Homo sapiens: one gene and its partners. The protein of the gene in region 4 interacts with the protein of the main gene of each other region in a pairwise test. Each region holds a gene or a part of one and is shown on either strand. Other genes may lie near its edges. The genes, in order: POGZ, SMAP1, CRX, QRICH1, MYH7B, KLHDC7B and MEOX1.

Evidence for each region.
Region 1: the proteins of QRICH1 (region 4) and POGZ interact in binary tests that used the Homo sapiens proteins (3 or more experiments, as listed by UniProt).
Region 2: the proteins of QRICH1 (region 4) and SMAP1 interact in binary tests that used the Homo sapiens proteins (3 or more experiments, as listed by UniProt).
Region 3: the proteins of QRICH1 (region 4) and CRX interact in binary tests that used the Homo sapiens proteins (3 or more experiments, as listed by UniProt).
Region 5: the proteins of QRICH1 (region 4) and MYH7B interact in binary tests that used the Homo sapiens proteins (3 or more experiments, as listed by UniProt).
Region 6: the proteins of QRICH1 (region 4) and KLHDC7B interact in binary tests that used the Homo sapiens proteins (3 or more experiments, as listed by UniProt).
Region 7: the proteins of QRICH1 (region 4) and MEOX1 interact in binary tests that used the Homo sapiens proteins (3 or more experiments, as listed by UniProt).

What each region holds. Positions count from the first base shown.
Region 1 is NC_000001.11:151,424,995-151,428,494, forward strand, and holds part of POGZ (pogo transposable element with ZNF domain), read right to left. Parts: intron 3,420-3,500; coding exon 3,129-3,419; intron 3,048-3,128; coding exon 2,829-3,047; intron 68-2,828; coding exon 1-67. UniProt on the Homo sapiens protein: Plays a role in mitotic cell cycle progression and is involved in kinetochore assembly and mitotic sister chromatid cohesion.
Region 2 is NC_000006.12:70,726,883-70,730,382, reverse strand, and holds part of SMAP1 (stromal membrane-associated protein 1), read right to left. Parts: intron 1-3,500. UniProt on the Homo sapiens protein: GTPase activating protein that acts on ARF6. Plays a role in clathrin-dependent endocytosis. May play a role in erythropoiesis.
Region 3 is NC_000019.10:47,835,437-47,838,936, reverse strand, and holds part of CRX (cone-rod homeobox protein), read right to left. Parts: intron 2,695-3,500; coding exon 2,543-2,694; intron 1-2,542. UniProt on the Homo sapiens protein: Transcription factor that binds and transactivates the sequence 5'-TAATC[CA]-3' which is found upstream of several photoreceptor-specific genes, including the opsin genes.
Region 4 is NC_000003.12:49,059,572-49,063,071, forward strand, and holds part of QRICH1 (transcriptional regulator QRICH1), read right to left. Parts: intron 1-3,500. UniProt on the Homo sapiens protein: Transcriptional regulator that acts as a mediator of the integrated stress response (ISR) through transcriptional control of protein homeostasis under conditions of ER stress.
Region 5 is NC_000020.11:34,962,368-34,965,867, reverse strand, and holds part of MYH7B (myosin-7B), read right to left. Parts: intron 1-3,500.
Region 6 is NC_000022.11:50,544,674-50,548,698, reverse strand, and holds the start of KLHDC7B (kelch domain-containing protein 7B), read right to left. Parts: upstream 2,801-4,025; 5' UTR 2,456-2,800; coding exon 1-2,455.
Region 7 is NC_000017.11:43,655,423-43,658,922, forward strand, and holds part of MEOX1 (homeobox protein MOX-1), read right to left. Parts: intron 1-3,500. UniProt on the Homo sapiens protein: Mesodermal transcription factor that plays a key role in somitogenesis and is specifically required for sclerotome development. Required for maintenance of the sclerotome polarity and formation of the cranio-cervical joints.

The DNA of each region.
Region 1 (3,500 bases), on a different chromosome or scaffold from region 4:
GCATTACATCGTGGACATATTTTCCGTCCACCATCCTGGAGGTCAAATACTGGGATGGAAGAGGTCACTGAAAGAAGTGAGAAGAATTGATAAGATTAATACAATGACACTGGAAAAAGATTACTGACCTTTTGGGAAAAAGTCAAACACTCCCTGAGAAGTATATAAAAGGGTAAGCAAGCATGAGAGATCACTATGGTTTTTGTTTGTTTTTGTTTTTTTTGAGACACGGTCTCTCAGTCTGTTGCCCAGGCTGGAGTGCAGTGGCACGACCACAGCTCACTGCAGCCTTGACCTCCCTGGGCTCAAGATCACTATGTTTGAGGCTTCCTTTTACTGTTCTAACTCTAGGCCAGGGGTCAGCAAACCACAGCACACAGATCAAATCCAGCCCAGCTACCAGTTTCTGTTTGGCCCATAAGCTAAGAATAATTTGTATGTGATTTTTTTGTTAAGGTTTTTGTTTTTTTTAATCTTGCAGAACTGAAGCTATATCCAATAAAAACCTCCTCACCATTCTCCCCTCGCCTCCACCCCGGCAACCACAATTCAACTTTGTCTCTATGAATTTGACTACTCTAGGTACCTCAAGTAAGTGGAATCATATGGTACTTGTCCTTTTGTGACTAGCCTATTTCACTTTAACATAATGTCCTCAAGGTTCAACCATGTTGCAGCACATGTTGTAGCAGAATTTCCTTTCTTAAGCCTGAACAATATACCATTGTATGTGAATACCACATTTTATTTATCCCTTTATCAGTTGATGGACCTCTGTGTTGCTTTCACCTTTCAGCTATTGTGAATAATGTTGCAATGAACATAGGTGTACAAATACCTGTTCTAGTCCCTGCTTTCAATTCTTTTGGGTATAGAATGGAATTCCTGGAGCATACAACAATTCTATCATTTTTAACTTTTTGAGGAACCACCATACTGTTTCCAAAGTGGCTGCATAATTTTACATTTCCACCAACAGTGCGTAAGGGTTCTGCTTTCTCCACATCCTCAACAATATTTGTTATTTTATGGTTCTTTGATAGTAGCCATCCTAATGGGAGTGAGACGGTACCTCATTGTGGTTTTGATTTGCATTTCCATAATGATTAATAACACTGAGCACCTTTTCATGAGCTTATTGGCAATAACTTTCTTTGGAGAAAGGTCTATTCAGTCCTTTGCCTACTTTCCTACTTTTTTTTTTTTTTTTGAGATGGGGTCTTTCTCTGTTGCCCAGACTGGAGTGCAGTGGCACAATCTCGACTCACCACAACCTCTGCCTTCCAGGTTCAAGCAATTCTTGTGTCTCAGCCTCCCGAGCAGCTGGGAATACAGGCACACACCACCACGCCTGGCTAATTTTTGTATTTTTAGTATAGACGGGGTTTCACCATTATTGGTCAGGCTGGTCTTGGACTCCTGACCTCGTGATCCACCTGCCTTGGCCTCTCAAAGTGCTGGGATTACAGGCATGAACCACCACGACCAGCGAGTCCTTTGTCTATTTTTTAAAAAGGTTGTTTGGGAGTTTTTTTGTTGTTGAACTGCACAAATTCTTTATATATTCTGGATATTAACCCCTTATTAGATACATAATTTGCAAATATTTTCTCCCATTCTGTGGCTTCCCTTTTCACTGTGTTGACAACGTCCTGCACAAAAGTTTTAAATTTTGATATAATTTAATTTACTCATTTTTTCTTTTCTTGCGTATGCTTTTGGTGTCATATCCAAGAAATAGTAATCACTGTCAAATCCAGTATCATGAAGCTTTTTGTCCTATAATTTTTCTAAGAGTCTTATAGTTTTAGTTCATTTAGGTCTTTGATCCATTTTGAGTTAATTTTTGTATTTATTGTAAGGTAAGATCCAACTTCTTTTGGACATGGATATCTAGTTTTCCCAACACCATGTTTTAAAGGTTTTTACTTTTTTTGAGACAGGGTGTCGTTCTGTTGCAGTGGCATGCTCATGGCTCACTGCAGGCTCAACCTTCTGGGTTCAAGCCCAAGCCATCCTCTCACCTCAGACTTCTGAGTAGCGAGGACTGCAGACATACACCACCACGCCTGGCTAATCTTTTTTTTTTTTTTTTTTGTAGAGATGGGATCTCACCATGTTGCCCAGGCTGGTCTCAAACTCCTAGGCTCAAGTGATCCTCCCGTCTTGGCCTCCCATAATGCTGGGATGAGGTGTGAGCCACTATACCTTGCGGTTTTTATTTTTAAATGGTTGAAATAAAAGAATAAAACTTTTCGACACATGAAAATTTTATGAAACTTAAATTTCAGAGTCCATAAATAGTTTTTAGTGGAGCACAGCCATGCTCATTCGTTTATGTATCTGTGGCTGCTTCCCCACCACAACAGCACAGTTAATAGCTGCAACAGAGGCTATATATTGTGCACAAAGCCTACAACTTTACTACTAGGCCCTTTACAGAAAACATTTGCCGACCCCTGCTCTAGACCACTGAAAACCCTCATGCTCATCATTCTCAACCTGAAGATCTCTCTACCAAATCCTAACTTTAAAACCTTGCTCAGAAATCCATCTCTTCCATGAAGTTATCTTTCATTATCTCACCCATCTTTAATCAATCAATTTCACTAATCTCCAAAGCACAATTACACACATAATTTCTTGGAGCTGATTCAGTTACACTTTTTGTAAGTGGCTTTCTCCTTACTAAAGTTTCTGTAAGAACAAACTACAGCAGCTGTATTTTATTTTATTTTTCTATTTCTGAGTATAAAGCTCTGATACAACAAACACTTTATTAATGTTTTTGAATGACTGGCTGCTCAGAGTCTTTCAGGTTATTGTACCTTTCATTGAAGACTCAGGTCCGCTGGTTCTTTGAGAGCCATGAGCAGAGCTGTTGTTGGACACCACCACTGGCCCAGGACTCTGGCCCAGGGAAGGGATGGTGTTAAGGGTATTCACCAATTTGGCCACTTCATTGCTATTTTCGCCTGTAACACCAGGTCGCTTCACAGTGACAAAGCTGGCAATGCTCACTGCAGGTGGAGAGGGGAAGGAGGGAGCTACGGTGACCAAGTGATAATCATCTGTTCTCCACCCACCATCCCAACCTGGCTCTGCCATCTCCTCTTCCGAAGCCTTACCTAGCTTGGGATTCGTGGTCTGGTTTGACTGGCCTGGAGACTGAACAGCTAGTTGCCCCAGTGAGGTTGGCTGTGTGGCAGTGGGAGTGGTAGAAGTGCTGGGAGTGGACTTGGTCTGCTGGGACTGGGACTGTGGGACGGTGCTTCGAATGGTAAGAGTGGCCGGGATGACGGTGGTGAAGGTGTTGGTGGTGGGCCTCACAGGCATTGTGGAGCCTGGCCTCACAGGGGTCATCTGGGAGAACACTTGTGGAACTCCAACTGTCGGCTTAACAAACTGGGTACCTGGGGCTTTAAAAGAGAGACAAAGTACCAGATCTTGGTCAGTGAGCTCACCTATAACACATTCTCCCTGCCTTTACTGGAAAGATT
Region 2 (3,500 bases), on a different chromosome or scaffold from region 4:
TAAGAAAGGTTAAACAGATATGCAGTGGGCCAGAAACAGTGGCTCACACCTATAATCCCTGCACTTGGGAAGCCAAGGTGAGAGGATAACTTGAGGCCAGGAGTTTTGAGACCAGCCTGGGTAACATAGTGAAACCACAGTGGTCTCTAATAAAAATTGAAAACTACACACCACACGTAGTGGTGAGTGCCTGCAGGTCTAACTACTTGGGAGGCTGAGGCAGAAGGATAGCTTGAGCCCAGGAGTTCAAAGGTCCTTTGAGCTATGGTGGTACCACCGCACTCTAGTCAGAAAAAAAAGGAGGGTCAGGGGGAGAAGGGAGAGAGAAGGGAAGCAGAAATGCACAGTGAATTCTAGATCAGTGTCTCTCAAACCCTAATGTGCATGCACATCAACTGGAAATATCATGAAAATGAAGACTCTTAATTCTGTGACCCCCAGAGTAGCTCCTAAGGTTCTGCATTCTAACAAGTTCCCAGTGATGCCCATGCTGCCATCCACAGATGACATTTTGAAGAGCAAGGTTCTAGAGCATTCTCCACAATCTTTAACTCAAGCATTCAACACACTTCCTGATTTGCTTTCACATAACTAACGTAATTAAGGGACTGATAAATGTGGCAGCAGTAAGAATGGAAACGAACAAATATGAAATCACCAGGAAGAACTGACAGGGCTTACTCATAGAAAATACAGTGGCAAAGGAGAAGGTAGAGGCCAAAATGCAAGTTCTGCACCTAGGATATAAAGCATGAGGGTCCTCGTGGAGTCAGAAAACTGCAGGAGATCCATTGAATGCTTTAAATGATAGTGATACACCAAGATGAAAATGTCTGGCAGGCGATTTAGAATATAGGACTAAAGTTCAAACTGGATACATACACACATACACACACACACACACACACACACACACACACACAACCTTCTTTTTTTTTTTTTTTGAGACGGAGTCTCGCTCTGTTGCCCAGGCTGGAGTGCAGTGGCGTGATCTCGGCTCACTGCAAGCTCCACCTCCCAGGTTCATGCCATTCTCCTGCCTCAGCCTCCTGAGTAGCTGGGACTACAGGCGCCCGCCACTTCGCCCAGCTAATTTTTTGTATTTTTAGTAGAGACGGGGTTTCACCATGTTAGCCAGGATGGTCTTGATCTCCTGACCTCGTGATCCGCCCGCCTCGGCCTCCCAAAGTGCTGGGATTACAGGCATGAGCCATCACGCCCAGCCTCACACCTTCTTTTAAGATGAGAGTTGCAGTATCAAGAACAAAAAGAGCAAAAAAGCACAGTACTAAATCTTAGGGAGAAAATGAAAGGCAGTAAAAGTAGAGAATGAGGTCGTTTCAAAGAAAAGCTGTTTTCAAAAACAGGGAAAAAAAAAAGATGTTCAATAGTATCAAATATTCCAAAGAAGTCAAGAGTAATTGGGCTAAGAAAGAACATCTGGATGTGGTAACTGAGGCTGAAAAGTATTAGGTAACCTCAGAGATTAGGCAGAGCAAAAGGGAGGGAGCTCATCCACTCTGAATTCATTATCAGAAGAAGAGGGAGAAAGATAATTCACCCAATCTGAATTCCATTACCAGTTTACACTCTCGCACCATTTCAGTTTCCAACTCCAAACCTTTAACAGTTTCCTGTTTTCCTCTATATTAGATTATAGGAAATATTTATCTCCTGTAAATGTCTACACTCATAACAGCATGTGACACAGAATGTGCCACAATAGGCATCTACTCTTTTTTCATTTGTAATTAGTTCTGTCTCCTAAAGTAGATGGTAAAGTTCTCACTAGGAAGGCTCTTATATAACCTTCTGTATCACCTACAGTAAGGGAATCGACTGTATAATTTTAAAAATCTGCTAGATCTGATGACTCAGTCAAATACTCAAATGTTTTGATTCCTGAACAACTGATCTACTATTTTTAAAAATGGAAATAAATCTGAAAATTATGGCAAAAATCACTATCTTTAATATCAATTTTCCCATTCTTCCTTTAAGTAATAAAGGCTTCTGAATTTTACCTAGAAATGTGGCTGTCCTGATAGGAAGACTACATTTCTCAGCCTCTCCTGTAGAATGTAAACAGAAATGATATATTTTGCCATTAACCACACTGGGCCTGTGTTCCCCTGGCCTCTTCCCCTTTTCCATTTGCTAGGAGACAATAAGGAATGAACCTGCAACCTTGGATCCAATTACAAAAGCCCCATGGTGAAGATGACAGAACTACTCTACCCATACTGGACAGTTCATGTCCAGACCAATGTGAAGGAGAAATAAACTTCTACCCTGTTTAAGCCACTTTTTTTTTTCTTTGAGACAGGGTCTCACTCTATTGCCCAGGCTGGAGTGCAGTGGTGAAGATCTTGGCTCACTGAAATCTCTGCCTCCCAGGCTCAAGTGATCCTCCCACCTCAGCCTCACAAGTAGCTAGAACTACAGGCACATACCACCACGCCCAGCTAATTTTTGTATTTTTTGTAGAGACAGGGTTTCACCATGGTGTCCAGGCTGGTCTCAAACTTCTGGGCTCAAGCATTCCACTTGCCTCAGCCTCTCAAACTGCTGGGATTACAGGTATGAGCCACACTGCACACGGTCAGTGTGAATTACATTTGAATGTTGGTAACAGCAAACAGAACACACAATAGATTTAGCAATCCCTGATTTTAGAGCCCAAATTCTAAGACGGGTTAAAGAATAATAAAAGACTTTTTCATCAAACCTGAGTTTTCTAGATCCAATTTAAATCACCAGTTATCTATTATGTGTTTATTTTGACCGAAGTATTAAACGAAGATGACAAAACACAAATCCTGCCTTCAAGGAGCTTGAACTCTAATAATCATATAATGGTTATAGTAATAAGTACAAATGACACAGGAACATAGAAGAGGTAAAAATTAATGTCAGCCAACAATATTAATGGAGGCTTTGTAGAGACAGTGGCATTTGATGTGATTATTATGTGGGTTGGGCGCAGTGGCTCACGCCTGTAATCCCAGCACTTTGGGAGACTTAGGTGGGCAGATAACTTAAGGCCAGGAATTCAAGACCAGCCTGGCCAACATGGCCAAACTCCATCTCTACTAAAAACACAAAAATTAGCTGGGCGTGTTGGTACGTGCCTGTAGTCCCAGCTACTCAGGAGGCTGAGGTGTGAGAATCGCTTGAACCCTGGAAGGCAGAGGTTGCAGTGAGCCGAGACCCTGCCAATTCACTCCAGCCTGGGTGACAGAGGGAGACGCTGTCTTTAAAAAAAAACAAAAAACAAAAAAAGACCTCAAGTTACACAGCAGGTAAAGTCTGGACAGGGTAAAGAACAAGGTACATTCTTGGTAAAATGAACAGTGCCCCCCCCATCTTGAAGAGTTTCAGCTATACTGTAATATATAGCCAAAAAATATAACATTGCAGTACCTGATGACTGCTAAGCTTTTTATTTAAATGCTAATTTAAATTTCTACACACACACACACACACACACACACACACAC
Region 3 (3,500 bases), on a different chromosome or scaffold from region 4:
ACATATATACACCATACGCACATATATCATGCATACATTTACCCATCTATATGATCATACGTACATCATACACATTTTCATCCATCCATCTAATACAAACATGCACACATACAATTATACATACATACACCATACACACATACATCATGCCTGCATTTACCCATCTATATGATCATACATACATCATACACATATTCATCCACCCATCTAATACAAACATGCACACATACAATTATACATACATACACCATACGCACATACATCATGCATACGTTTACCCATCTATCTGATCATACATACATACATCATACACATATACATCATACATACATTCACTGGCTCATCTGATCATACATGCAAGTGTACATGCATCATACACGCATACATCATACATGCATTAATGGAGCCATCTGATCATACATATATACATCATACACATTCATCCATCCATCTGATCATACAAACATACAATTATACATACATACATTGTACACACATACATCATACATATATACACATTAATCCATACATACAATCATGCAGACACACATTTCATTTATCCATCTAATTATATATACATGCGTACACTCATATATACACAAATAAACCCATCCAGTCATCCAATCATGCATGTATGCGTACATACATGATACCTACAGGCATTTATCCATCTAATGCAAACATACATACAATTATACATGCATACACCATACACACATGCATCATGCATACATTTATCCAGCTATCTGATCATACATACATCATATACATATTCATCCATCTGATCATACAGACATACAAACATACAATTATAGGCACATACATTGTACACACATACAGCATACATAGCTACACACTAATCTATCTAATCATATGTGCATACAATCACACAAACATACATATTTCATTTATCCTTCCAATCATACACACGTGTGTATGCACATATATGTAACATCATACCTACAGCATACAAACATACACGCATACAATTATACATACATACACCATACACACATACATTATGTAGACATCCATCTGATCATATATACATACCTCACACATATATATGTCATACACACATTCACCAGTCCATCTGATCATACATACATCATACATAGACTTATCCATCTGATGATACATACAATTGTACACACATACATCATACATAGATTCATCCATCTTATACATATAATTATATAAACATAGGTCATACACACATACATCATACATGCATTAATGGATCTATCTAATCATACATACATCATATGCATGTTCATCCATCCATCTGATTATACAAACATACAAATATACAATTATACACCCATACATCATACACACATACATCATGCATACATATACATTAATCCATCCAGTCATACCTATATACAATCATACTAACACACACATTTTATTTATCAGTCCAATCATATATACATGCATACACTCATATATACATAAATACACCCATCCGGCCGGGCGCGGTGGCTCACGCCTGTAATCCCAGCGCTCTGGAAGGCCGAGGCAGTAGGATTGCCTGAGGTCAGGAGTTTGAGACCAGCCTGGCCAACATGGTGAAACCCCATCTCTACTAAAAATACAAAAATTAGCCCGGTGTGGTGGCACACGCCTGTAATCCCAGCTACACAGGAGGCTGAGGCAGGAGAATCACTTGAACCCAGGAGGCGGAGGTTGCAGTGAGCCAAGATCATGCCACTGCACTCCAGCCTGGGCGACAGAGCGAGACTCCATTTCAAATAAATAAATATACCCATCCATCCAATCATGCAAGCATGTATACATACATGTGCACATACACCACGTATACATATATCATGCATGCATACATTCATCATCTATCTAATCATACCTATGTGCGTTCATGCAAACACACATATATACATGTATCCATCCCATCATACACACAGACACTCATATATACACATACATACACTCATCCATGCTTCCAGTCATACATGCACACGCACACCTACAGTCACACATACATACATTCATCTATGCATCCACCCACCCATCCATCCATCCGTCTATTCAGTCAGTTAATAAACATGTATTAACCATTTTCTACTACTCTGAGTGTCCGTCAGTGGAATTGACATTCTAGTTGGGAGAGACAGAGTCTAAATAAACAGACTCTGAGATACCATATGTAAATCATATGCAATTTTAAATGCTGTGTTCAGTGTGGGTCTCACTGATGGATAAGCAAAGACTCGAACAAGGCGATGGGGCCTGCTGTGTGGTTATCTGGAAATAAGCATTCCAGATAGAGGAAACTGAGTGCAAAGGCCCAAGGCAGGAGGGTGCTTGGCAGGCAGGTCAGGGCCAGCGCAGCTGGAGAGGAGCGAGGGGCAATGAGAGCCATGAGGCGGTCAGTGGGATGGTGGGGAGAGGGATTATTGTCCCCTTTATAACTTTGGCTGTCACTCTGTGATCTCTCCCTCCTCCCATCACTCTTTGTTCCGGGCAGGCCTCCTGAGATCACAGGAAGTGTCGGGAGGGGTCCAGGGACCCACCACCCCACCTGAACCCTGGACTCAGGCAGATTGATCTTCAGAGCCACCTCCTCACGGGCATAGACGTCTGGGTACTGGGTCTTGGCAAACAGTGCCTCCAGCTCCTCCAGTTGGCTCCGGGTGAAGGTGGTGCGCTCCCGCCGCTGCTTCCTGGGGGCGCCTGGGGTGGGATGGGAAACAGGACCCTCAGGTCATCCACATGGGCTGGTGTGAGGCCCTGAGGCTGGGTGGGATGCCAAGAATTCCATCCTGGTTGCCATCTGCCTAAACTAAGGATGGAATACACATTCCCTGCCCTTCTACACCTCACTGTGTGCCTGGCACTCTGTGGCTCATGCCTGACCCCAAGGCTTTAGCTCAACAAGGAGGTGTGCGAGTCGTTTTTCCCTCTTCTAAACTTTCTTATGCACTAAGACATAATCAGTTGAAGCATGACATTGCTGACATTCAACCGTTTCTAGCCTATAAAAGTAGCAAGTCTGGGCTGGGTGCGGTGGCTCACGCCTATAATCCCAGCACTTTGGGAGGCTGAGGCAGGCAGATCACAAGGTCAAGAAATTGAGACTATCCTGGCCAACATGGGGAACCCCTGTCTCTACTAAAAATACAAAAAATTAGCCAGGTGTGGTGGTGCATGCCTGTAGTCCCAGCTACTCGGGAGGCTGAGGGAGGAGAATCGCTTGAACCCAGAAGGCAGAGGTTGCAGTGAGCCAAGATTATGCCACTGCACTCCAGCCTGGTAACAGAACAAGGCTCGGTCTTGAAAAAAAAAAAAAAAAAAACAAGAGCTAAAGAATAATGCTACAAATAACTGAGTACTCACTTCTCTTAAAAATAAGGCTTTACAAAAATTGGCCGGGCATGGTGGTGTGCGCCTGTAATCCCAGCTACTTGGGAGGCTGAGGCAGGAGAATCACTTGAACCTGGGAGGCAAAAGTTGCAAAGAGCCAAGATCGCGCCATTGCA
Region 4 (3,500 bases):
ACCACCCCCAGCTAATTTCTGTATTTTTAGTAGAGACGAGGTTTCACCATGTTGGTTGGCCAGGATGGTCTCGATCTCTTGACCTTGTGATCCGCTCACCTTGGCCTCCCAAAGTGCTGGGATTACAGGCTTGAGCCACCATGCCTAGCCTTATTTATTTATTTTCTGAGATGGAGTTTCGCTCGTTCCCCAGGCTGGAGTGATATGGTAGTCACGGCTCACCGTAACCTCTGCATCCCGGATTCAAGCTATTCTCCTGCCTTAGCCTCCCAAGTAGCTGGGATTACATGTGCCTGCCATCACATCCAGCTAACTTTTTTTTTTTTTTTTTGAGACGGAGTCTCGCTCTATCGCCCAGGCTAGAGTGCAGTGGTGCGATCTCGGCTCACTACAACCTCCACTTCCCCGGTTCAAGCGATTCTCCTGTGTCAGCCTCCCGAGTAGCTGGGACTACAGGTGCGTGCCACCACGCCCGGCTGATTTTTTTATTTTTAGTAGAGACAGGGTTTCACCGTGTTAGCCAGGATGGTCTTGATCTCCTGACCTCATGATCCGCCCACCTCGGCCTCCCAAAGTGCTGGGATTACAGGCGTGAGCCACCACGCCCAGACCTAATTTATATATACATATATATGTTTTTGAGACCAAGTCTCGCTCTGTCGCCCAGGCTGGAGTGCAGTGGTGTGATCTCAGCTCACTGCAAGCTCCGCCTCCCAGGTTCATGCCATTCTCCTGCCTCAGCCTCCCAAGTAGCTGGGACCACAGGCACCCGCCACCACGACTGGCTAATTTTTTGTATTGTTATTAGAGACAGGGTTTCACCGTGTTAGCCAGGATGGTCTTGATCTCCTGACCTCGTGATCTGCCTGCCTTGGCCTCCCAAAGTGCTGGGATTACAGGTGTGAGCCACCACACCCAGCCCTAATTTTTGTATTTTTAGTAGAGACGGGGTTTCACCATGTTGGCCAGGCTGGTCCAAAACTCCTGACCTCAGGTGATCCACCAGCCTTGGCCTCCCAAAGTGCTGGGATTATAGGCGTGAGCCACCATACCCAGCCCCCAGCCTGATTTTTTGGGCAGAAGTCCCCAACCCTGGGGCCAAGGACTAGTACTGGTCCGTAGGCGAACGACACAGCACAGAGGTGAGCATTACCACCTGAGCTCCACCTCCTGTCAGATCAATGGTGGCATTAGACTCTTGTAGGAGCACAAACCCTATCGTGAACTGCAAATGTGAGGTATCTAGGCTGCATGCTCCTTATTAGAATCTAATGCCTGGCCAGGTGCATTGGCTCACACCTGTAATCCCAGTACTTTGGGAGGCTGAGGAGGGCAGATCACTTGAGGCCAGGAGTTCAAGACCAGCCTGGCCAACATGGTGAAACCCCACCTCTACTTCTACTAAAAATATAAAAAATTATCCAGGCATGGTGGTGCATGCCTGTAATCCCAATTACCTGAGAGGCTGAGGCAGAATAGCTTGAACCCAGGAGGCGGAAGTTGAAGTGAGCAGAGAGAGCACCACTGCATCACAGCCTGGGTGACAGAGTGAGCCTCCATCTTAAAAAAAAAAAAAAAAAAAAAAAAAAAAAAAAATCTAACACCTAATGATGTGAGGTGAAACAGTTTCATCCCAAAGCACCACCCCCATCAATGTCTGTGGAAAACTGTCTTCCACAAAACGAGTCCCTGGTGCAAAAAACGTTGGGGACCACTGCTTTAGAGTGCTTACTTAACATATGTTTAATGGGAAAGGCATTTAAATAAACAGAATCCCAATAATTTAATCTGAGCAATATTACCATAACCTGGATGACATGTTTCTGATAACAATACAGTTACTGTCTTATTATTATGTCAGCATGCAAAAGAGCATGAAAAGAAAAAAATACATAGTATGCAACTTTTAAAAAACAGCTTTTACCATCAGACACATAGATAAATTACCCTAACCACAAGTAGGAATTAGAAAGGTAGAAAACAAGAAGGCAGAAAATGAGGCCAGGCACAGTTGCTCATGCCTGTAATCCCAGCTCTGTGGGAGGCCAAGGTGGGTGGATCACCTGAGGTCAGGAGTTTGAGACCAGCCTGACCGACATGGTGAAACCCCGTCTCTACTAAAAATACAAAACTAGCCAGGCATGGTGGTGCATGCCTGTAATCCCAGCTACTTGGGAGGTTGAGGCAGGTGAACTACTAAACCCAGGAGGTGGGGGTTGCAGTGAGCCGAGATTGCACCACTGCACCACAGCATGGGCAACAAGAGTGAAACTATCTCCCAAAAAAAAGAATATATGCAAATGGCCAAGAACCACATAAAAAGTTGCTCCATATCATACTAGCTGTGAAGGAAATTCCAATCAAAGCCACAATGAGAAACCACTTTATATCTAATAAGTTATATCTAAAAAAGACAGATAACAAGTATAGGTAAGGATATAGACAACTTGAAACTGCTGGTGGGCATGTTAAATTGGTGTAGTTGGCCAGATGCGGTGGCTCACACCTGTAATCCCAGCACTTTGGGAGGCTGAGGCCAGTGGACACAAGGTCAGGAGTTCCAGACCAGCCTGGCCAACATGGTGAAACCCTGTCTCTACTAAAAATACAAAAATTAGCTGGGCGTGGTTACACATGCTTGTAATCCCAGCTACTCGGAAGGCTGACGCAGCAAAATTGCCTGAACCTGGGAGGTGGAAGCTAGTGAGCCGAGATGGCGCCACTATACCCAGCCCAGTCAAGGACAGAGTGAGACTCCATCTCAGAAAAAAAAAAAAACAAGAAAAAATTGGTGTAGTCGCTTTTTTTTTTTTTTTTGGGAGGTAAAGTCTTGCCCTGTTGCCCAGTGGTGGAATCTCAGCTTACTGCAACCTCCGCCTCCCTGGTTCAAACAATTCTCCTGCCTCAGCCTCCTGAGTAGCTAGGATTACAGGCACGCATCACCATGCCCAGCTAAATTTTGCATTTTTAGCACAGACAGGGTTTCACCATGTTAGCCAGGCTGGTCTCAAACTCTTAACCTCAAGTGATCCACCTGCCTTGGCCTCCCAAAGTGCTGGGATTACATGTGTGAGCCAGTGTGCCTGAATTATACATTTCAAATGGGTAACTTATATCTCAATAAAGCTGTTACTAAGTATATTTTTTAAAAAAAGGCCGGGCGCTGTGGCTCACACCTGTAATCCCAGCACTTTGGGAGGCCGAGGCAGGCGGATCATGAGGTCAGGAGATCAAGACCATCCTGGCTAACATGGTGAAACCCCATTTCTATTAAAATAATTAGCCAGGCGTGGTGACGGGTGCCTGTAGTCCCAGCTACTCGGGAGGCTGAGACAGGAGAATGGCGTGAACCTGGGAGGCGGAGTTTGCAGTGAGCCAAGATCGCGCCACTGCACTCCAGCCTGGGTGACAGAACGAGACTCCGTCTCAAAAAAAAAAAAGGCTCAGGTTTTGAGATCACAGACTTCAATGTGAATTGATGCTGCACTTTTCTGCCTGTG
Region 5 (3,500 bases), on a different chromosome or scaffold from region 4:
CACTCCAGATACAGTGGCCTTCTGAGAGTTTACAACTAAACCAGCTCCTTTCTGTCTCAGGGACTCTGCATCTGCCATTTACTCTTTCCCCAAACTGGGGCATGGCTGCTTCCTTCTTCTCGAGCCTCCACTCAAATGTCACCTCCTCAAAGGGGCTTCCTTTGACTACATTAACTAAACTAGGTCCTTTCTATAAAGGTTCTCTCTTCACCCTCTGTATCACATGTCCCCATTTCTGAGTGTATTACACTTATGGGTAAGTCTGCTTATTATCATCTGTCTACCCCACAAGACAGGTCTTTCTTGAGACCCAGGAGCAGACAGATCCCATTCTGGGTCCCCAGCAGCCAGCATGCCCAGAAGAGGCACCCATGTGCTTGCTGATGGGCCATGTCCCCTGGCGTGAGGCTTCTGCTTTTGAGAACCATCTTTCCCAGCGGCCTCTCGCTCTGCTCCCTGCTGCGCCCTCAGGCCAGGCCCAGTGAATATTCTGACTCCTGTTTCTCACCCAAGCCTGGGCAAGCCTCTCTTTTCTTTGCTCTAGTGGATTCGGCTGAGCCAGGTTAACCACACAGCATGATGCCTAAGAGTTCTGGAGTCCAACTGCCTATGTGCAAACCCTCAGAGTTGCTCTGTCTCTTTGATCTTCTGATTCCTCATCTATAAAACAGGAATGAGCCAGGTGCGGTGGCTCATGCCTGTAATCCCAGTACTTTGGGAGGCCAAGGCAAGAGGGTCACTTGAGGCCAGGAGTTTGAGACTAGCCTAGACAACACAGTGAGACTCATCCCTATTTTAAAAATAAAATAAAATGGGAATACTAATAGTACCTGTCCCATAGGAATTGAATGAGATAATACCTATTTTTAAAAAGAAAAGGCGTAAGTGCCTGGCACATAAGAGTTCAACATATAATCATTACTATTCATTTTCTTATTATCATTAAGACCATCTCCAAACTCAGTAGATTAAACAAGGAAAGTTCATGTCACACCAATATAAAGATCATGAAAAAGTCCCAGAAAAAGGGTCATTCCTAAGGGTCACTTAGGCCACTGTGACCTCTCATCCTTAGGCAATTCCCTTGTTTTTTAATTTTACAAAAATTTTTTGTAGAGGTGGGATCTCACTATGTTGCCCAGGCTGGTCTCTATCTCCTGGTCTCAAGTGATCCTCCTGTCTTGGCCTCCCAAAGTACTGGGATTACAGGCGTGAGCCACCGCGCCCAGTCCCAGGAATTCTCTTTTGGCTTCACTCTTTCTCCACTCCCTCCCTTCTTGGAAAATTCAAGGAGATGGAAGAGCAGGACGATAGCCTCTCCCTGGGTAGAGAGAAGCTCCCATCACTAGTTTCAAGGTGACAACCGTCCTCTCCCACATCTAGAGTTGTCAGCCTGCCCCCAACATTCTCTAGCTCCACGGTGTCCCTACAGAGAGCCACATAGTCTAGGCCCAGAGCCCTGCCATCCTCCAACAACAGGCAGAGTAAAGGGTTATTCTGGGCCCCTTCTGCTTTCATGCATTCATCCATCCAACCATGTAAACACTTACTGAAAAACAAATCTTGCTATTAATCTGGAAAATCACAACGAGACACCGTTTCACATCACTAGACTGACAAAAGCTAGAAACCTTGACCATTCTGTCTCGGTGAGGATGCAGAATGAGGGCAATTCTAATACACTGCTGGCAGGAGTGCACATTTGCAAAACCATTTGGGAAAGAAACTTTGTATTACCTTGTAAGTCTGAATATGCTCACGACCTTCAACACACTGCACAGGAGGCATCTATTAGTCTTTTTACCATATATAGTAATAAAATACTAGAGAACCCAAGTGACCATTCACAGGAGAATAAACAAAACTCTCATACAATTGCTGCCACTTTGGTATTTTTATGCAATGAAACCTATAGAGCAGTGAAAATGAATGAACTATTTCCCCTTAAAACATGGATAAATCTCCTGATATAACACTGAAAGAGAAAAGCAAGCTGCACAAGAATCATATAATTTACCACTTAAAAGTGCAAATACCATGAAAAAGTGTCATATATTGCTTAGAAATACACCTAATAGGAGGGTAAAAATGCATAAGACCTACCTCACATCCTATATAAAAATTAACTCAAAATGAATCAAAGACTTAAATTTAAGAGCCAAAACTATAAAACTCTTAGAAAAAGTAAGTGTAAATCTTTGTGACCTTCGAATTAGGCAATGGTTTCGTAGATATGACATTCAAAGCACAAGCAAAGGAAAAAATAAATAAATTGGACTTCGTCAAAATTTTAAAATATGTGCTTCAAAAGATACTATCGAAAAACAGAAAAGACCATCCACAGAATGGGACAAATTATTGGCAAATCACATATAAGGAAGGATCTACTATCCTGAATATATAAAGAATTCCTACAACCCAATAATAAAAGGACAAATAACTTACAAATAAGGAAAACATTTAAATAGACCCTTCTCCAAAGAAGATATACAAACTACCAATAAGCACATGAAAAGATATGCGCATTATTTGTCATTAGGAAAATGCAAATCAAAACCACAATGACCAACCAGGATGGCCACAATCAGACAAGTACAGTGGGACCTCCATATCCATGGGTTCCACATCTGTGTATTCAACCAACTGCAGCTTGAAAATATTTGAAAACAATGTTTCAACTGTACTGAGCATGTACAGACTTTTTTCCTTGTCATTATTCCCTAAACAATACAGTATAACAATTTATATAGCATTTATGACTTCTTTTTTTGAGACGGAGTCTCGCTCTGTCACCCAGGCTGGAGTGCAGTGTCGCGATCTCAGCTCACTGTAACCTCTGCCTCTGGGGTTCAAGCGATTCTCTGCCTCAGCCTCCCTGAATAGCTGGGACTACAGGTGTGCGCCACCACGCCCAGCTAATTTTTGTATTTTTAGTAGAGATGGGTTTTCGCCATGTTGGCCAGGCTGGTCTCGAACTCCTGACCTCAGGTGATCTGCCAGCCTTGGTCTCCTGAGGTTCTGGGATGACAGGCGTGAGCCACTGCACCCGGCCGAGATGACTTAAAGTACATGGAAAGGACAGTGTGGTGGCTCTCGCTTGTAGTCTCAGCTACTTGGGAAGCTGAGACAGGAGGATCCCTTGAACCGAGGAGTTCAAGGCTGCAGTGAGCTATGATCGCACCACTGCTCTCCAGCCTGACAGAGTGAGACCTTGTCTCAAAATAAATAAAAATAAATTTAAATTTAAAATAAAATAAAACAAAATTAAAGAGCATATGAGAGGATGCATATAGTTTATATGAAACACTACACCATTTTATATAAGGGACTTAAGCATATATGAAACACTGCATCATTTTATATAAGGGACTTAAGTATCCTTGGATGTTGGTATCCATGGGAGGTCCTGGAACCAATTCCCCACAGATACAGAGGGATAACTGTATTGGTGAGGATGTAAAAATTGGAGCTCTGATACAATTGCTGCCACTTTGGAAAAC
Region 6 (4,025 bases), on a different chromosome or scaffold from region 4:
CCTCCTGCTTTTCCGTGAGCGCCCCGCTGCGGCCGGCAGGGCTGCCCCCCTCCCCCGGCGCCTCCCCTTGAGGGTCCCCCGAGGCGGCCGGCCTGACCTCCTGCTCCGAGCTCGGGGCGATTTCGCACCTGCTGCGTTTCCGTAGCTGGGGTACCGGCTGTGAGCGCCTCGCAGAGGAGGAGGCCGCGGGGCCAGGCGGCCTCTGCGCGGGGGGCTGTGCGGGGCCCCTGGGCATCGCGGCTTGGGGCAGCGGGTCTAGACTTTTCTCCCTGGTTCCCTCTCCTCTTAGGCCTGGGGGAGGGTCTGGGCTGGGCGATCCGTTGGTCTCGGAGCTTCTTGGCTGTGGCTGACCTCCAGCCTCAACCAGGCCCCCTGTACCTGTCCCTATGACTGTCCCCACTGAAGAAGAGGGGCCGTGTCTGTCCTCAGAGTGTGTGGAAGTGCTGGGACCCACGGGGCTCCCGGGAACCGCCCTCGGGACACTCCCTTGGGGCCTGTCTTGCCTGGGGAAGGGGTGGCTTCTAAGAACCATGGCAATAAGGTTTCCCCAGCTGGCTGAGACCTGCCCCTCCTGGTAGCGCCTGGGGAGAGCCACACTCTCCTGAGGCTTTGACCCGTCAGCTGGGGCAGGGGATGCGGCTGGGGTTGGGGTTGGGGCTGAGGTGGGGGCTGGGGCAGGGGATGCGGCTGGGGTTGGGGCTGGAGTTGGAGCTGGGCTTAGGGCTGGGGTTGGGACTGGGGTTAGGGCTGGGGATGCGGCTGGGGTTAGGGCTGGAGTTGGAGCTGGGCTTAGGGCTGGGGTTGGGACTGGGGTTAGGGCTGGGGATGGGGGTGTGAGGGTTGGGACTGGGACTGGGGCTGGGGCTGGAGTTGCGGCTGCAGCTGGACTTGGGGCTGGGGCTGGGGTTGAAGTTGGAGCTGAGGTTGGAGCTGGGGCTGGGGCTGAGGTGGGGGATGAGGTTGAGGTGGTGGCTGAGGTTGGTGCTGAGCTGGGGGATGAAGCCAGGGCTGGGGCTAGGACTGAGGCTGGAGCTGAAGTTAAGACTTGGGCTGAGGCTGAACTTGGGGCTGGCGCCGCTCTGAGATTTTCGCCCACGGAAGGATCCTGGGTAACCTCCAGGGGCAAAAAGTCTGAAGGAGAGGGGAGAGTCAGGGCTTCAGGTGGGAACCCCGGGCCGGGAGCTGCGGGCGGGGAGGCGGAGCGCGGGCGAGGCTCACGGCTCCGGGAGGGCGCGCGGCTGTGGCCGGCTGCAGCCGGCTTTGCTTGCTCCGGGGGCCGGGTGGGCCCCAGGTCAGCGGCAGGACTGTTATCTCGGGAGCTGTCAGCCCCGGCCTCGCCGGCATCGTAGGCCCCTGTGGCACCCGGCCCTTGGGACGAGAGTGGGCGACCTTGAGGCGGACTCTCTAGCCAGGGGCGCGTGGAGTCTGGGGCTGGGCCAAAGCTCCGGGTGCCCGGGACCTCCCTGCTGACCCAGGGCCAGCCTCCTCCGGGGGCAGGGACCCCCGAGGCCTCCCTGCTCCAGCCACCCTTGGCCCCAGAGCCTTCCGTCTGAGACCCAGGCTGCAGGGCGCGGGGAGCGGGCAGCGCCGGGAGTGCGGGCTCCTGGGCGAGTGGGGGTCCTGTGGGGAGGCCGCGCGCGTGGGCGTCCAGGGCGGCGGCCCCGTCCACCGCGTCCCACACGCTCCCCGCGGCGCCCAGGCGGAGCGGGTCCAGTTTCCGGGGGCGGCGGGCTCTGTCTCCCGAGCCAGCGTCCATCCGCCGCCGCCGGCCCCGGCCTCTCCCCATCGAGCCCGAGGGCCCCGCGCCCGCCTGCCAGGGGCCAGTGTCCTGTTGCCCCGCGGGGCCTGCGGCCTGGCGAGAGGACGCCCTGACACCACCTGTCTCCGCCTCCGCTTCGCTGCCAGGGCTCCGAGGAGTGAAGTGGATCAGGAGGGGGGCGGACATCCCCCCTGCTTCGCTCCTGCCCAGGAGGGCAGTGCCTGGCCTGGGAGGCTCCTTTCCTTCCGCTCGGGGGGCCGCGGGGGTGGCACTGCCCCGTTGCTGTCCTAATGCCTCTCTGCGGGCCTCCTCGACAGCCGTCTTGAGTGGAAGCCGGGCCATGGCGGCCAGGCCCCCGCCCGGCGCTGCAGCAGGGACAGGGCTCTGCTGGCCGCGTCCTGGGGGCTCTGGTTTCCCCTGCCCTGGGCTCTGCCCCTCGCTGCCATCACTGACCTTAGACTTCGGTTGCAGGGCCAGCTCAGCTCCTCCTGCCTGATGAGGTTGAGCCCCGAGGGCTGTGGACACCGGTTCTGCCGCCTCTTGATCGTGCCCGGAGCCAAACCAGTGTAAGGCCAGCGCTGTGGCAGCCACCACAGCCAGCGCCAGGAGGGCCAGCACAGCACTATCCCAGTCATTGTCACTGTCCCAGTCCCAGCCCCAGAGGGGACCATCTGGCTCCAAGGTGCCCTGGATCATGGTTCAGGGCTGCAATAGAGGCCTGATGGCAGGCTGGCAGTGCATGCAGAGCACAGAGGCCTGGGCTGAGGCACCGGCCAGCGCCTGCCCCAAGGGCTGCCCAGTTAAGGTGGACCAGTCCTCCAGGGCCTGGGAATGGTGGGGTCTCTGCTTGCACTCAGGCCTGGGGGTGTCAGTAGGGCCTGGCTGCAGATATCAGGAGACAGCGAGGCTTATGGCAGGATAGGAGCCCAGGGTCTCTGCAAGCACCCCACCAGCTCCTGCCCTCTTCTCCTCCTCGTAGGCCCCAGGGTCCTCAGGCAGCGTTCCTGAGCTCTGTGCTGTCATCACAGCCAACCTGCTTCTGCCTGGTAGACCCTCACACCCCTAAATTTATTCCACACCCCACAGTCCCTCCTCTCAGCCTGGGCCCAGCTTCAGGGGGCTTGGCAGGGAAGGGTTACCCACAGGGAGATGTTATCTCTAGCTCTAGCAATGTGATGTGGCCCTGATGAAATCACCAGAAACCGGAGAGGCTGATTCCACTGTGGGCCAGCAGGGGAGGGGTGGGGGCCGTGCACGGGAGGGTGCAGGCTGTGCCTGACGGTGGTCTCTCAGGCTGAAGAGGGAGACCCTGGACACGGGTCCTGGCAGTGAGCATTATCATTGCAGGGGTGCTGTGGAGGTTTGTACTGGGGCACAGGGAGGGGGCATAGAGAGGAGACTGAGGCTCCCATAGCTCCTCCTCCAGCAGCTTTTGGACTCCTTACTCTGGGTTTACCAGACATGGGATAGGGTTATCAAGTCAAGAGAAAAAAAAAATTAATGGGATAAATAAAATCCAAACATATTTCTCTCTTTATGGCCAGGCTTATTTCAGCCCACCTAGACCTTCTAGGATCTCCTGGACCCCCTGCGCCCATCGAGAGTGTCTTGACTGCCCAGATGAGACTCTCACTGTGCCCCTGGAGAACCCTGAGCCCAGCCTGCCCCCTACTCCAGTTACCGCATCAGCCAGCACCTGGATCCCTTAGAAACCACCCCCCTCTGGCCCCAGGTGCTCTAATAGCCAGACTCTGGGTGTCTTCATCTCAGTCCTCAGCCTTCCCTTATCTGAGCTGAGGACTCGCCCTCGAGACCACATCCTGGCTGGTACCTCCTAGCCCTGGCTCAGGCCGGCATGTAGGTACTTCTGTTGGATGTGAGCACTTGCTTCCTGAGGGAGAAGCCTGGGCTCCTCCACCTGCTCCTTGCTTAATCCCATCTCAGGAGTGTCTCGGGCCAGGTGCCAGGTGAGGCTCAGACAAGAAAAAGAGCCTGGAGTCCCTGGGACAAAGGCAGGGCTCCCTGGAAAGTACCGTGTGTATTTTTCCTTCCTCTGGGACACAGCAGGCCTGGGGATTTCTCCCTTACTCAAGCAGCAAGGAGATGGCCTAGGAGTGTCCCTGGCACCCAGCCTGAACCCTACTGAGCCTCAGGTAACTCACCTCCCAGCTCCCCCTGGGACTATTAGATGACAGGGAGAGGGTGAGGGTGGGCCCCATGCCTTAAGGTGGACCTCAAGTTGAGGGAAGGCTTTCTAGACCGTGCC
Region 7 (3,500 bases), on a different chromosome or scaffold from region 4:
ATCGCGCCACTGCACTCCAGCCTGGCAACAGAGTGAGACTCCGTCTCAAAAAAAAAAAAAAGAAGAAAGAAATTTGGTATATCCATACAATGGAATGTTATTGTCTTCAGAAAGAAGGAGGCCAGGCATGGTGGCTCACACCTATAATTCCAGCACTTTGGGAGGCCAAGGTGGGAGGACTGCTAGAAGCCCTGAGTTCAACACCTGCCTCGGCAGCATAGCAAGACCCTGTCTTTCTAAAAAAAAAAAAAAAAAAAAAAAAAAGAAGAAAATCCTGTCACTTGCTACAACCTGGTTGAAACTTGAGGACATTATGCCAAGTGACATAAGCCAGTCACAAAAATGACAAACATTGCATGATTTCACTTATGTAAGGTATCTAAAATAGTCAAATGTTTAGCAAGAGAAAGAATGGTGATTGCTAGGGGGTGGGGGAAGGGAAAAAAGGTCGTTGTTTAATGGAGATAGAGTTTCGGTTTTGCAAGATTAAAAGTTCTAGAAATCGATTGCACAACTACTGTACTGTATCACTTAAAAACTGTTAAGACGGTAACTTTTATGTTATGTGTATTTGACCCCAATTTTTAAAAAAGGAGATTTCAAATATAAGATGTCCCAGGTAAGAAACCTCAGAAGAGTTCCTTTATGAAACAACTGCAAGCTAAAGTGAGAAAATCAACACAGATTCTAGCAGATACTAGACTTCGACATTTCTTAACTGTAGCTTTCTTTGATACTATGTTATATGCAAATGTAGCTATAAATTTTTGAAAAAGAAGAACAAAAATATTCTTGGAAGGGGTTGTTTTTGAGCTGGGTGGTTTTTAAGTAGGACTTCAACAGGCAGAAGTACGGGGAAGGGGAGAGTGCTCTAGGCAAGGAGAAACCACCAGAGCACAGTCAGAGAGGGGGAAGAAAATGCAGGATGTGTTTGCAAGGTCAGTCCCTGGGTGTGGCTTCGTGGCAGGGGTAGTGGAGGGGACCTGGGGCGGGGAGGTGGCCTGTAAAGGGGCATCAGGAGGGAAAAGAGGAGAGAGGCCTATTTGTGGAGTTTTATACCTTAGGCAAATTTGTGGTTGGGCGGAGGCAGGCATAGAGCAGGTCTTGCAAAGAGAAATTGGGGCAGGACAGCTCTGGGAACACACGTGTTGGAGCTGAAGAAGGATGAGACAAATCACGTCTGATTAAAGGCATGTCTCAGCAGAGTGAGGACGTGAGAGCAGGAGGGAGCAGTGCTGAGTTCTAGCACCATGGCTTTCCCAGGCGGGCGATCGGATTCACCTGTAGCCACTCTAATCACACGCAACCTTCCCTTGAACCCCATGAGGAAACCACCGCAAAATCCTTCATTCCCATAAATTAAAGACAACCACAGTAGCAAGGACAGTTTGGGGGAAAACAACAGTGGCCTCACAGCTGTCCCTGCCAGCAGGGGTCTTTAATCCCCATTGGCCTGGGGCTGGGAGTGGTTTGGGTAAGATAACACCATGCTGGTCTCCAGGGTGGGGAAGTGCCAAAGGCCAGGAACCCTGCTTTCTTTCTTTCTCCCCGTTTGTTCATTTTCTTTCTTTCTTTTTCTTTCTTTCTTTCTCTTTCTTTCTTTCTTTCTTTCTTTCTTTCTTTCTTTCTTTCTTTCCTTCCTTCCTTCTTTCTTTCTTTTCTTTCTTTCTTTTTCTTTCTCTCTTTTTCTCTCTGTCTCCTTCCTTCCTTCCTTTCTTCCTTTCTCTCTCTCTTTCTTTCTTTCTTTCTTTTTTTTTTTTTTTTTTGATGTAGTCCCGCTCTGTCACCCAGGCTGAATGAAGTGCAGTGGCGTGATCTCTGCTCACTGCAATCTCCACCTCCCAAGTTCAAGCTATTCTCCTGCCTCAGCTTCCCAAGTAGCTGGGATTTACAGGTGCCTGCCACCACACCTGGCTAATTTTTTTTTTTTTTTTTTGTATTTTTAGTAGAGATAGGGTTTCACCATGTTGGCCAGGTCAGTCTTGAACTCCTGGCCTCAGGTGATCCGCCTGGCTCAGCCTCCCAAAGTGCTGGGATTATAGGCATGAGCCACCGCGCCCGGCCAACCCTTGCTTTCTTGATAATTTCTTTGAGTAGATCAGCTCCAGATTCTACTGGGAGTGAGCGGGGAGCAGTTGAAGGAGATGGCAAAGGAGGAAGGAAGCGCAGAGAACATTCCTCTTACAATAAACTTTCCATTTCTGGAGGCTTCTCAGCCACTCAATATGGGGTGCATTTGCCAGGCCCAACTCACCCCATAACCTCTCCGGCAGGTCTCTGAGCTCCATGCTCCTGATGACAACTGGAACAAAATGATTGCCAGAAGTTCTCTAGACTCAGGAATTTCTGAGACAGCATAATTGAAATATTCAATTCCACCATCCCCATAAATATAGAAATATTTGTCAGACCTTATATTCTGAAGGCTGGTTCAGGAAATATGGGCCTAATACCATTTACAGCTGCTATTTATTGAACTCTTACTATGTGCCAGGCACAGAGTTAATCTCATGGATCACTGCATCTAACCTTCACAGAGAGACTCTCTATGGAAGGGGCTACTGCTATATGCCCATTTTACAGCCAGGGAAACAAAGGCTGGAAGAAGTTATGAACTTTTCCAAAGTCATGCAGCCAAAAGTTGCCGTGCTGACACTGCAGCCTGTCTGTCTGGCTGGGAAGAACTATGGAAAACGCGTTTCTGATCAATGCTGGTTAACCTTCCAGGGACCACTCAGCCTGGACTTGGGGAGGCCCAAATGCAAGGGCATGCCCAACCCCTCTGTAGTCAAGATCAATAATATTTTAAGGAAGGCCGGGCACGGTGGCGCATGCCAGCACTTTGGGAGGCCGAGGTGGGCTGATCACGAGGTCAGGAGTTTGAGACCATCCTGACCAACATGGTAAAACCCCGACTCTACTAAAAATACAAAAATTAGCCGGGAGAGGGGGCGTGCGCCTATAATCCCAGCTACTCAGGAGGCTGAGACAGGAGAATTGCTTGAACCCAAGGGGCAGAGGTTGCAGTGAATTGAAACTATGCCACTGCACTCCAGCATGGGCGTTAGAGTGAGACTCCATCTCAAAAAAAAAAAAAAAAGAATATTTTAAGGCAATATTTGTAAAAATCAAAAGTAATGCAAAAAATTGATAATGAACAAAATATCACAATTTTGGAGAGGGGATCCAATTATAGACTCAGGATTGGCAGGGTTGGGTGGGGGGCTCTCTGTGGGTTTGCCTTTTCTGAGCTGAATTCCAGATTCCTGGAGTAGGTCATGAGCCTTGCGTCACTTTCCCCCTTCTTTGGGCTCTTACAAAGCTGATCTTTCTTGCCTCCTTCCTCCCCTTCAGTTAAATTCCAAAGGAGGATGCAAGCATTGCGGCAATAAAGATTTCCATGCTGAACAGTGAGTTTGTCTGGAATCACAGGGGGATGAGTGAGAGTCAGCTCACTGGGCCCTGCCTCATCTGCTGCTGGTGCTCCTGAGGGGACCCTT